Linked DNA regions of Homo sapiens. The protein of the gene in region 3 interacts with the protein of the main gene of each other region in a pairwise test. Each region holds a gene or a part of one and is shown on either strand. Other genes may lie near its edges.

Region 1 (3,652 bases), on a different chromosome or scaffold from region 3:
GGTGCTGAGAATCAGAAAGAAAGGAAGATAATGGCAGCTCTGAAACCAGTCTTAGGCTTTGCTGACTCTCAGCACCTTATTCTTTCTGCTAGCATTTTGGCAGACGTGACAAAGAACATCCCAAGTGTATAAGACACACTGCAGTTTCTAATACCATCTCCTTGCAACAGTGTGCTCATATCACCTGCGTGGTACAATGTCCTTCACTATAAGAGATAAGCAATTATATTTTAAAATCTTTTAAACAGGTATTTCTATTCAGCAGTAGGTTGCTTTATATCCCCAAAGACTCTCCAGTCAAACTTCCTTTTGTTATAGGATATAAAAACAGTTCACACGAATGATCATTACCTTTAACAAGCAATTTGTCTCTCACAGAAACCCTCCGAGTCGAGTCGGACGCTGTGGCTGCCGTCCGGGACCCTTTGAGACCATCGTCACGCTTCAGTTTACTTGCTAGCGTTAGCATTACTGCTGCCTTTACCCTGAAAGACAGCAATGAAAGCAGGGTTAAGGACCAGGTCTCCAGAGACTAATTAGACACTGAGAAAAATGTATAAGTGCTTTTGTATTTTGATTTTTTCCCACAATTTAGTTATGGAAAAAATTTGTACACATTAATAAGATTGGATTCCTTCATAATACATTTGAGAAGCTCTATGCCATCCTCTATAAGCCTAACTTTTAAAATTATGAATTAACATTTTTTAAAAAAGAGAGTCATGGCTGGGCACGGTGGCTCACAACTATAATCCCAGCACTTTGGGAGGCCAAGGTAGGAGGATTGCTTGAGCCTAAGAGCTCAAGACCAGCCTGGGCAACATGGCAAAACCCTGTCTCTACAAAAAATATAAAAAAATTAGCCAGGAGTGGTGGTGTGTGCCTGTAGTCTCAGCTACTCGGGAAGCTGAGGTAGGAGGATCCCTTGAGCCTGGGAGATTGGGGATACCGTGAGCCGTGATTGTGCCACTGCACTCCAGCCTGTGTGACACGGCAAGACCCTGTCTCAAAAAAAAAAAAAAAAAAAAAAAAAAATTTAAAATTAAAAAGAGTCATGCATTTCACACTCACTGGGTGCCAGGTCCTGGGATGTGGTTGTGACAAAGCTCCCGTGGAACACAAGGTCTAGGGTGGCCTCCACAGTTTCTCAACCAGCATGCCCTCACCAATGGGTTCCACATGAGTCCATTACTGCCCACTGGTAAGTTGGCCCTTCCCTGCTGCAGGGGATCATGCACACACATGGTACGGTCCCAGGTTCTGGCCCATCACCAACTGAAGCAGCACAGCCTCTGGTGGAAGAGGAGCACCACTCTTTGCTCTCCTTCCTCTTTTAATAAAGGTGTGGATAGAGCCTTAATAAGCATCTTCTCATTTATTCATGCTGTGTTGCATTTACTTACATTTGTGTTTTATTTATATTTTTTGGCAATTTCAACATCAAGACTAAATTAAAATTAATGTCCCAAAGTAGATTATGTTCATTGGTGGCTTCCACCCCATCTGTGTTGCAGGTTCCCCTGCTGCAAGCTCACTAGTAGGGACAACAAAGACCAAACACAGGTGATGCCCCTTGCTATCTGGGAGACGGTTGAAGAAATGCCACAATTTGTTTAAGATTTTATTTTTTAATGGCAGTTTTAAGTATACAGTAAAATTAACAGGAAGGTACAGAGATTTCCCATACGCCCCCTGCCCCAACACATGCACATCCTTCCCCTATTACCAACATCTCCCACCAGAGGGTACATTTGTTACAATTAATGAACCCACATTAACACATTATAACTCAAAGTCCACAGCTTACATTATGATCCCACTAATTGTAACAAAGTAACTATCCGCTAGACTCTGCCTTCTGTTTCTAACATAAACTGACATTAATCGTCCTCCTTGCCATGGTCAGAGAGGGTCACTGGAACTTCTTTTGACTGAGGACAAATATTTGTCACCAGGGCCAGGTGCCGTGGCTCATGCCTGTAATCCCAACACTTTAGGGGAACGAGACAGGTGGATTATGAGGCCAGGAGACCGAGACCACCCTGGCCAACATGGTGAAACCCCGTCTCTACTAAAATACAAAAAAATTAGCCGGGCGTGGTGGCCCACACCTGTAGTCCCAGCTACTTGGGAGGCTGAGGCAGGAGAATCACTTGAAGCCGGGAGGCAGAGGTTGCAGTGAGCTAAGATTGCACCACTGCACTCCAGCCTGGCAACAGAGTGAGACTCAAAAAAATAAAATAAAATAAAACAAAATAAATTGTCACCAGTTCAATATTTCCATAATTTCCTTTGTTGCTTTCGTATCATTTTATTTCAATACCACTCTGATCGTTTCAACAGAAAATGATCTAAAAATTCCATGTGAAAAGCTTGACCTAAGCACAGAAATTTTAGGTTGAGGCTAAGATCCTGAAAGTCAAATAAGAATACTCCGTTCCTCATTGGCATTTGAAACCATTTTTCACCCAGGTCTCTTACACAGTTTCTCACACCATCTTCTGCATATCCCCTAAATGCTGTCAGATTTTATTTTCTATTGTTTGTACCATGAAAACAGTACAGGCCAGGCATGGTGGCTCATGCCTATAATCCCAGCACTTCGGTAGGCCGAGGCAGGTGGGTCACCTGAGGTCAGGAGTTCTAGACCAGCCTGCCCAACATGGCAAAACCCCATCTCCACTAAAAATACCAAAAAAAATTAGCTCGGCATGGTGGCGGGTGCCTGTAAATCCCAGCTACTCAGGAGGCTGAGGCAGAAGAATAGGTTGAACCCGGGAGGTGGAGGTTGCAGTGATTGTGCCATTGCACTCCAGCCTGGGCAACAAGAGTGAAACCGCATCTCAAAAGATAAAAAAATTTAAAGAATTTTTTCAAAACGAAAACAATACATAGAATACGATCTTCTGAACTGCACAGTCTTTTCCACTAGAGGACACGGACATACACATACCCTAAACCCCTTAAGAAGCACTGGTCTAAAGGTTTCAAAGACAGCTCTGCACTTTCACGGTCATAAGCTCTCAGAATTGCAAAGTTGGAATGGACTTCTCTCACTCCCATTCCATTTTAACATGTGGACCCCAGGACAACAGAGGCCCAGAAGGTAGGCTGCCCAAAGCCACTCAGCTGCTAGAAGCTGTCACCACAGACACACTAGTTTCCCTCTTGTGGATGACAAAAATGTTTTTTGTTTGTTTTTTGAGACAGGTCTTGCTCTGTAGCCCAGGCTGGAGTGCAGTGGCGTGACTTGAGCTCAGTGCAGGCTCAAACTCCCAGGTTCAAGAGATCCTCCCACCTCAGCACCCTCCACCTCCTAAAGCAGCTAGGACTACAGGCAGGCACCATCATGTCCAGCTAATTTTAATTTTTTTTGTAGAGACAGGGTTTCACCATGTTACCCGGGCTGGTCTTGAATTCCTGAGCGGAAGCAATCCACCTGCCTCAGCCTCCCAAAGTGCTGGGACTACAGACGTGAGCCACCATGCCGGGCAGGAAATGTTTTTATCTCGAGTGTGGTCATGGTTTCAGACTGATCAATTACACAATTTAAATATGGGCAATTTAGTGTATTTCAATTACGCCTCAATAAAGTTGACAAAAATGTGAAAATAAACCAACATTAGTTTCTTCATTGTTACGCTACTGTGCC
Region 2 (3,652 bases), on a different chromosome or scaffold from region 3:
TACTATAAAGCCACAATAATCAAGACAGTGGGGACTTGTGTAAGAATAGATACATAGATCAATGACATAAATAGATTATCCAGATCCACAGATATATGGTCAATTGATTTTGACAAAGGCACCAAGGCAATTCTATGGGTAGGTAAAGATTTCTTGCAACACACAAAAAGCACTGACCATAAAAGAAAAAAATGGATAAACTGGGCTCCATTACAATTACAAACTTGTTCTTTGAAAGACACCATTAAGAAAATGAAAAGGCAAGCCAAAGACTAGGAAGAAAATAGTCTCAATACATATATTTGAAAAAGAATTTGTATCTGAAATATATAAGCAATTCCTACAACTCAATAATAAAACCACTCAATTTTTTTTTTTTTTTTTTGAGACGGAGTCTTGCACTGTCGCCCAGGCTGGAGTGCAGTGGCGTGATCTCGGCTCACTGCAAGCTCCACTTCCTGGGTTCACGCCATTCTCCTGCCTCAGCCTCCCGAGTAGCTGGGACTACAGGCGCCTGCCACCATGCCCGGCTAATTTTTTTATTTTTAGTAGACACAGGGTTTCACCGTGTTAGCCAGGATGGTCTCCATCTCCTGACCTCTTGATCTGCTCGCCTCGGCCTCCCAAAGTTCTGGGATTACAGGCGTGAGCCACTGTGCCCGACCACCACTCAGTGTTTTTAAATGGGTAAAAATATTTGTACAGATACTTAACAAACGAAAATATGTGGGCCGGGCCAGGCGCGGTGGCTCACGCCTGTAATCCCAGCACTTTGGGAGGCCGAGGTGGGCAGATCACGAGGTCAAGAGATCGAGACCATCCTGGCTAACACGGTGAAACCCTGTCTCTACTAAAAATATAAAAATTAGCCATGCGTGGTGACAGGCACCTGTAGTCCCAGCTACTTGGGAGGCTGATGCAGGAGAATTGCTCCAACCCGGGAGGTGGAGGCTGCAGTGAGCCAAGATCATACCACTGCACTCCAGCCTGGGCGACAGAGCGAGACTCCATCTCAAAAAAAAAAAAAAACCAAAAAACCAAAGAAAATATGTGAATGGCCAATATGCACATGAAAAGAAGCTTTAGTCATCAGAAAAATGGAAATTAAAACGACAATGAAATACCAATACACACCCAGTAGAATGGCTAAAATTAAGAACACTGACAAAACAAAGTTCCGGCAAGAATACTGTGCAACTGGACTTCTTATAAATTGCTGGTAGGAGTGTAAGCTGGTACAACCGCTTTGGACAGTGATGTGGCAACCTCACATAAAGTTAAATATCTAATTAGCATACAACTAGTAATTCCACTTCTAGGCATCTGCACAAGAGAAGTGAAAGCACATGTTCACAAAGAGACTTGTACATGAATGCTTAAAGTAGCTTTATTCATAATAGTCCTCAAATGGAAACAATTCAGATGTTCATCAACAGGTGAACAGATAAGCAAATAGTAACTTATTCATGCAACCGAATACTACCAAGTAATAAAAAGGCACAAGCTATGAATGCATGCAACAACATGGATGAATCTCCAAAACACTGTGTTGGGAGAAAAAAGCCAGATACAGAAGATTATAAACTATATGATTTCACTTATATGAAGTAAAAGAATAGCCAAAAATAATCCATAGATCAGAACAGTGATTACGTCTAGTGGGATTGACTGGAAAAGGAGGCAGGAGGGAACTTTCTGGGGTGATGAAAATATTACCTATTTTGATTGGGGTGGTGGTTATTTGGGGACATACATTTATCAAAACTTATCAAACTGGACCCTTAAAATTAGTGAATTTTGTTCAAGACCAGCCTGGCTAACACGGTGAAACCTGTCTCTACTAAAAATACAAAATTAGCCAGGCATGGTGGTAGGTGTCTGTAATCCCAGCTACTTGGGAGGCTGAGGCAGGAGAATCACTTGAACCAGGGAGGCAGAGGTTGCAGTGAGCCGGGATCACGCCACTGCACTCTAGCCTGGGCAAGAGAGTGAGACTCCGTTCTCAAAAAAAGAAAAAAATTGGTGATTTTTACAGTATGAAAGTTATACCTAATAAAAAAATACTGGGAAAAAGCAATTGGAAGGATGTTACAACTTTGACAGCATTTGTTTCTGGGGAGAGGGAGAAGGATTGGGAACATTGTTTAGGGAAGAGACTTTTTTACTGAACTTACTTTATACTGTCAAGATTTTATACCAGACACATATATTTTTCTTTTTTTGAGGCAAGGTCTTCCTCTGTCACCCAGGCTGGAGTGTGGTGGTGTGATCACTGCTCACTGCAGCCTCCACCTCCAGGGTTCAAGCGATCCTCTTGCCTTAGCCTCCGGAGTGGCATTTGTCACTATACCCAGCTTTTTTTTTTTTTTTTTTAATTTTTTTGTAGAGACAAGGTTGCCCAGGCTGGTCTTGAACTCCTGGGTTCAAGAGATCCTCCTGCCTCGGCCTCCCAGAGTGCTGGGATTACAGGCGTGAGCCACTGCACCCAGCCTAAAAATAGATTTTAAAACAAAAAAGCTATTAAGAAAAATAAAAAAACAAGGCTGTGGATATGAGGATGAATGTAACAGAGAACAGTCAGTACACCAAAAGCCATAGGATATTCAAAGCAAAGGAGGCCTCATACTCACAAGACAGAAATAATGCACGCTGATATTGTCTTTCTGAAGAAATTCCCCTAATTTTTCGGGATCCCCAGGTTCTCGAAGGCATAGCCAGCAAACTGGAAGAGAGGACACCCAGAATTTGGCTCAAATTGACCATTAAGAATGGAAGAGAAGGGTGAGAATGTAACCATTCCTCTAAGTCAGGAAGGAGTAGAATACTAGGAAAAGGGTCATTTTGGCAAGGAGGAAGGTTGGGATGAGGTCTTATGTGGTATCAATTAGTCTGTCACATAATTCTGGTTACAATGAAAAAGTTGGCCACAACTGCTCACTTCATTTTTTTTTGGTTTTGTTTTGTTCTAAAGTGACTTTAATAACTTGTTTCTTGAACTTCAGACATGGTAATTTAAAATGGCAGTTCCTGAGTCCTCAAGATCTTAGAGAATCTAGGAAGGAAGTAGGGCTGGGAGAGAGAGAAGAAGCAAGTATACTGCCCCACACAGGTGGCCTTCTTTGCTGAGGGCTGGAGGCAGTGGGCGAACACAAGCTCCAGTCTTTCTTACCAGGCCCTGAAGACGGTTTCCTCTGGGTTACCCTCCTAGTCTTGGCAGATTTTCTATACAAGAGAAATAAGAAGCACAAGGTGTTCTTTGGGGATCTTGTTGATAACCTTTTTAACATTTCTCTTAAAATGCCATTCATGGGTCTGATGAAGGACCAACATATCTAAAGCCTAAGACATCAGCTTCTTTTCATATTTCACATATATATGTTTTTGAGACAGAGTCTTGCTCTGTTGCCCAGGCTGGAGGGCAGTGGTGCGATCTCAGCTTACTGCAACCTCTGCCTCCTGGGTTCAAGCAATTCTCCTGCCTCAGCCTCCCGAGGAGCTGGGATTACAGGCGCCTGTCACCACGCCCAGCTAATTTCTATATTTTTAGTAGAGACGGGGTTTCACCATGTTGGCCAGGCTGGTCTTGAACTCCTGACCTCAGGTGATCCACCCGCCTCGGCCTCCCAAAGTGCTGACATTACAGGCATGAGCC
Region 3 (3,652 bases):
CGATGGCACGATCTTGGCTCACCGCAACCTCTACCTCCCAGGTTCAACCGATTCTGCTGCCTCAGCCTCCTAGTAGCTGGGATTACAGGCATCTGCCACCATGCCCGGCTAATTTTGTATTTTTAGTAGAGGCAGGGTTTCTCCATGTTGGTCAGGCTGGTCTCGAACTCCTGACCTCAGATGATCCGCCCGCCTCGGCTTCCCAAAGTGCTGGGATTACAGGTATGAGCCACCACGCCTGGCCATGAACATAATTTCTTTACATTCATTTTAGCACTGAAGTGCCAGGTAACACCCACCCCCGCTGCCCTTCAGTGAAACAGGTGTTTTAGTCCTGTACCTTCGTAGCTGCTGTCAGTACTTCTTGCTAAGGAATTGCCTAGGGTTGTGAAACTGCCCTTAAGAGAATGGTTTTCAGCCTTGGCTGCATGTTGGACTCACCAGGCAAGTCTTTAAAAATACTGATTCCTGGGGTCCCAGGCCCAGAGGTTCTGATTTCACTGGTCTGTGGTGCAGCCTGGGCACCAGAATTTTTTTGAAAACTCCCTGGGTAATTCTGATATACAGGCCAGGTTAAAAGCTTAAGACCTGCTCAGTCAAAGGGAAGATGTCTTCTTCCTGCCTACACTGTTTCAGCTGGGACATCACCCTCCACAAATTCCTGAGTGGAAAGGGCTGTGGTTACTTTGGAAGCCTGTGGCCCTAGAGTTCTGGAACTAATGCCTCGGCAACATACTCCCCAAGACCTGTCTACATGTTTTTCTGTTGTGGGATATGTAGTATTTTGCATCCCACTTTGGTTTTACCCAATCCTTTAAGAAAGGGTCAGCTAAGTTTTGGCCAAGTGTTGTGGTCCATGCCTATAATCCCAGCAGTTTGGGAGGCCGAGGCCAGCAGGTCACCTGAGGACAGGAGTTTGAGACCAGCCTGGCCAACATGGTAAAACCCCGTCTCTACTAAAAATACAAAAATTAGCCGGGCATGGTGGTGCACGCCTGTGGTCCAAGCTACTCGAGAGGCTGAGGCAGGAGAATCGTTTGAACCTGGGAGGTGGAGGTTGCAGTGAGCAGATATCACGCCACTGTACCACTGCACTCCAGCCTGGGTGACCGAGCAAGACTCCATCTCAAAAAAAAAAAGAAAGGGTCACCTGAGTTTTTAACAATCTGATTCTTCAATGAATCCCTTTCCTTTTTACCACAGATTGGCCTGTAACTTTTGCTGGACTTTGGTGCTCTCCTTGATTTTATTTGCTCTTTGCCTTTGGGCCCCAACTTTTATTTCCCACCTTAACTCCTCTGCACGTTTTCTTGTGTGAAATCTCCCAATATGAGGAGAAAGTCAGTGATTTCTGGGTCTATCAAAAGCAGCCATTGTTCAAAGTGTTTTTGTCCTTCTTCACCTCCAGGATGAAGAATCCATCCAGAAGATAAATCCTTCCAAGCCTGGACTCCATCTACCTGGCTCTCCTTTAGTATGTTTCATCTTCCTGTACTTTCTCATAAATTTCAGAAATTTATTCTGCATGCCTCCTCAGGGCAAAGGCATCTCTACCTACAACTGTCACCTTGACACTCACCTAACAGTGCTTGAAGTGTCCTATACTGATCTTTCCCCTCTTAAATCTGTACACATTTTCTAGTTTTTATTTATTTTTATTTTTATTTTTATTTTTTAGACAGAGTTTCACTCTTGTTACCCAGGCTGGAGTGCGGTGGTATGATCTTGGCTCACTGCAACCTCTGCCTCTTGAGTTCAAGTGATTCTTGTGCCTCAGCCTCCCAAGTAGCTGGGATTACAAGTGCCTGCCATCACACCCTGGTAATTTTTTGTATTTTTAGTAGAGACGGGGTTTCACCATGTTGGCCAGGCTGGTCTCGAACTCCTGACCTCAGGTGATCTGCCTGCCTCAGCCTCCCAAAGTGTTGGGATTACAGGCGTGAGCCACCACACCTGGCCATTTATTTTTATTTTTTTAGAGACGGGGTCTTGATATGCTGCCCAGGCTGATCTCAAACTCCAGGGCTCAAGGGATCCTTCTGCTTCAGCCTCCCAAATCACTGGGATTACAGGCATGAGCTACCACGCTTGGCCCACATTTTCTGTTATGACTTGACAGAACCTATAAAAGCAATTGGAGAACTATTTAAAAGACAATTTCCCCAAGGGTTTATTGAATCTGAGCTCTTACAGTGGAGAGGGGGACAAGGGATGGGGGGAACATATGCCAATCTATTTTCTGAGCTCTTCACACTCTGCCTCTGTTATATTTCCTTGGAACCCAGTTACCATATCCGGTAGGGTCATAACCAACAAGGATCCCTCTTCTGCACCCTCCTTTTAAAAGCTTTAGAGACCTAAGTTCATGTTCTTTCCTGTTCCATTTCTGTCTTCCCTATACTTTAAGATCTTCCTCCAGTTAAATTAGCCTGTATTCCTTTATTTTTCTTTTATTCATTCATTGCTTCCATACTGATAGTAAGATTGAAGCATCTTCTACAAACCACTCCATTTCCTCCTAGATTTTGAGAAAACTCAATTCCTGGAAAGACAGCATACTAGGCGTAGCCCTTGGGCTTCCGAATTTGCAGTCAGTTCACTGAGTTGTTGTATACTAGGCATATGCCTTTGGCTTCTGCATTTGCAGTCAATTCACTGAGTTGTTGTATACTAGGCATACCCCCACCTCTGGCTTCTGACAGTATACTAGGCATACCCTTTTGGCTTCTGAATTTGCAGTCAATTCACTGGCCTCAATTCCAAAGTGGTGCCTTCTTTATGGAAGGGTCACCATCCATTATTTGTTCATTGGGGGAAAAAAACCCTACAGTTACTCCTCCGTGAATAAAGCCCAAAGCCAGATCTCTGAAAAGTCTGGAACTTTCAAAATGCAAGCCATGATCTGGGCTTTCATGACCTACTTGGGGACCTTAGTTGGCAGCAAAACTCCATGGGTTATACCACATGCATCCAAGTGGTATGTAAGAAGTATAACCCTTTTTCTAACAGTTTAGAAAGAACAATAATCTGGGGGGAGGGGGAAGGAGGGAGGAAAGGAACAAGGGGTGAAAAACTAACTGTTGGGTACTGTGTTCACTACCTGCTGGCGGGACCAACTGTACCCCAAACTTTAGCGTCACTCAATATACCCATGTAACAAGTCTGTACGTGTACCCCCAAATCTAAAAGTTGAAATTATATTTTTAAAAAAGAACGATAATCGTGAAGATAGCTAAATTTCCTCTCTTGACCATGAATGTAGTTTAAAACAACATAGAGAATAAGAGAATGAGGCAACTGTCTGCCTATGCCTAGCACAAAACTCCAAGCTCAGAGAATTCACCTGTGTTTGGAGTTTATTTTCTAGTCATCAGTGATTACTAAAAATAAATGACTTGTTCTTGATAGTCTAATCCCTTTCCTACCCACTCTCTTAAGCCAAAGCTGCTCTCAGTAGAGCCACCATAGGACCATGGTCTGCCTGGCTTATATCAGTTAAAAACCAGGTATCGTATTTAAAAACTTAACACCAGCCCGGCGCGGTGGCTCACGCCTGTAATCCTAGCACTTTGGGAGGCTGAAGTGGGCGGATTGCTTGAGCTCAGGAGTTCGAGACCAGCGTGGGCAACGTGGTGAAACGCCATCTCTACTG

What was found.
Region 1: the proteins of RNF34 (region 3) and UBE2F interact in a two-hybrid assay, tested with the Homo sapiens proteins (one large-scale study listed by BioGRID and IntAct).
Region 2: the proteins of RNF34 (region 3) and PHF7 interact in a two-hybrid assay, tested with the Homo sapiens proteins (one large-scale study listed by BioGRID and IntAct).

The regions. Positions count from the first base shown.
Region 1 is NC_000002.12:237,969,925-237,973,576, reverse strand, and holds part of UBE2F (NEDD8-conjugating enzyme UBE2F), read right to left. Parts: intron 486-3,652; 5' UTR 470-485; coding exon 352-469; intron 1-351. UniProt on the Homo sapiens protein: Accepts the ubiquitin-like protein NEDD8 from the UBA3-NAE1 E1 complex and catalyzes its covalent attachment to other proteins. Together with the E3 ubiquitin ligase RNF7/RBX2, specifically neddylates cullin-5 (CUL5).
Region 2 is NC_000003.12:52,413,566-52,417,217, reverse strand, and holds part of PHF7 (E3 ubiquitin-protein ligase PHF7), read right to left. Parts: intron 3,223-3,652; coding exon 3,170-3,222; intron 2,723-3,169; coding exon 2,631-2,722; intron 1-2,630.
Region 3 is NC_000012.12:121,406,466-121,410,117, reverse strand, and holds part of RNF34 (E3 ubiquitin-protein ligase RNF34), read right to left. Parts: intron 1,658-3,652; exon of another isoform or gene 1,643-1,657; coding exon of another isoform or gene 1,409-1,642; intron 1-1,408. Other genes in the region: KDM2B (lysine-specific demethylase 2B), read left to right, coding at 1,409-1,642. UniProt on the Homo sapiens protein: E3 ubiquitin-protein ligase that regulates several biological processes through the ubiquitin-mediated proteasomal degradation of various target proteins.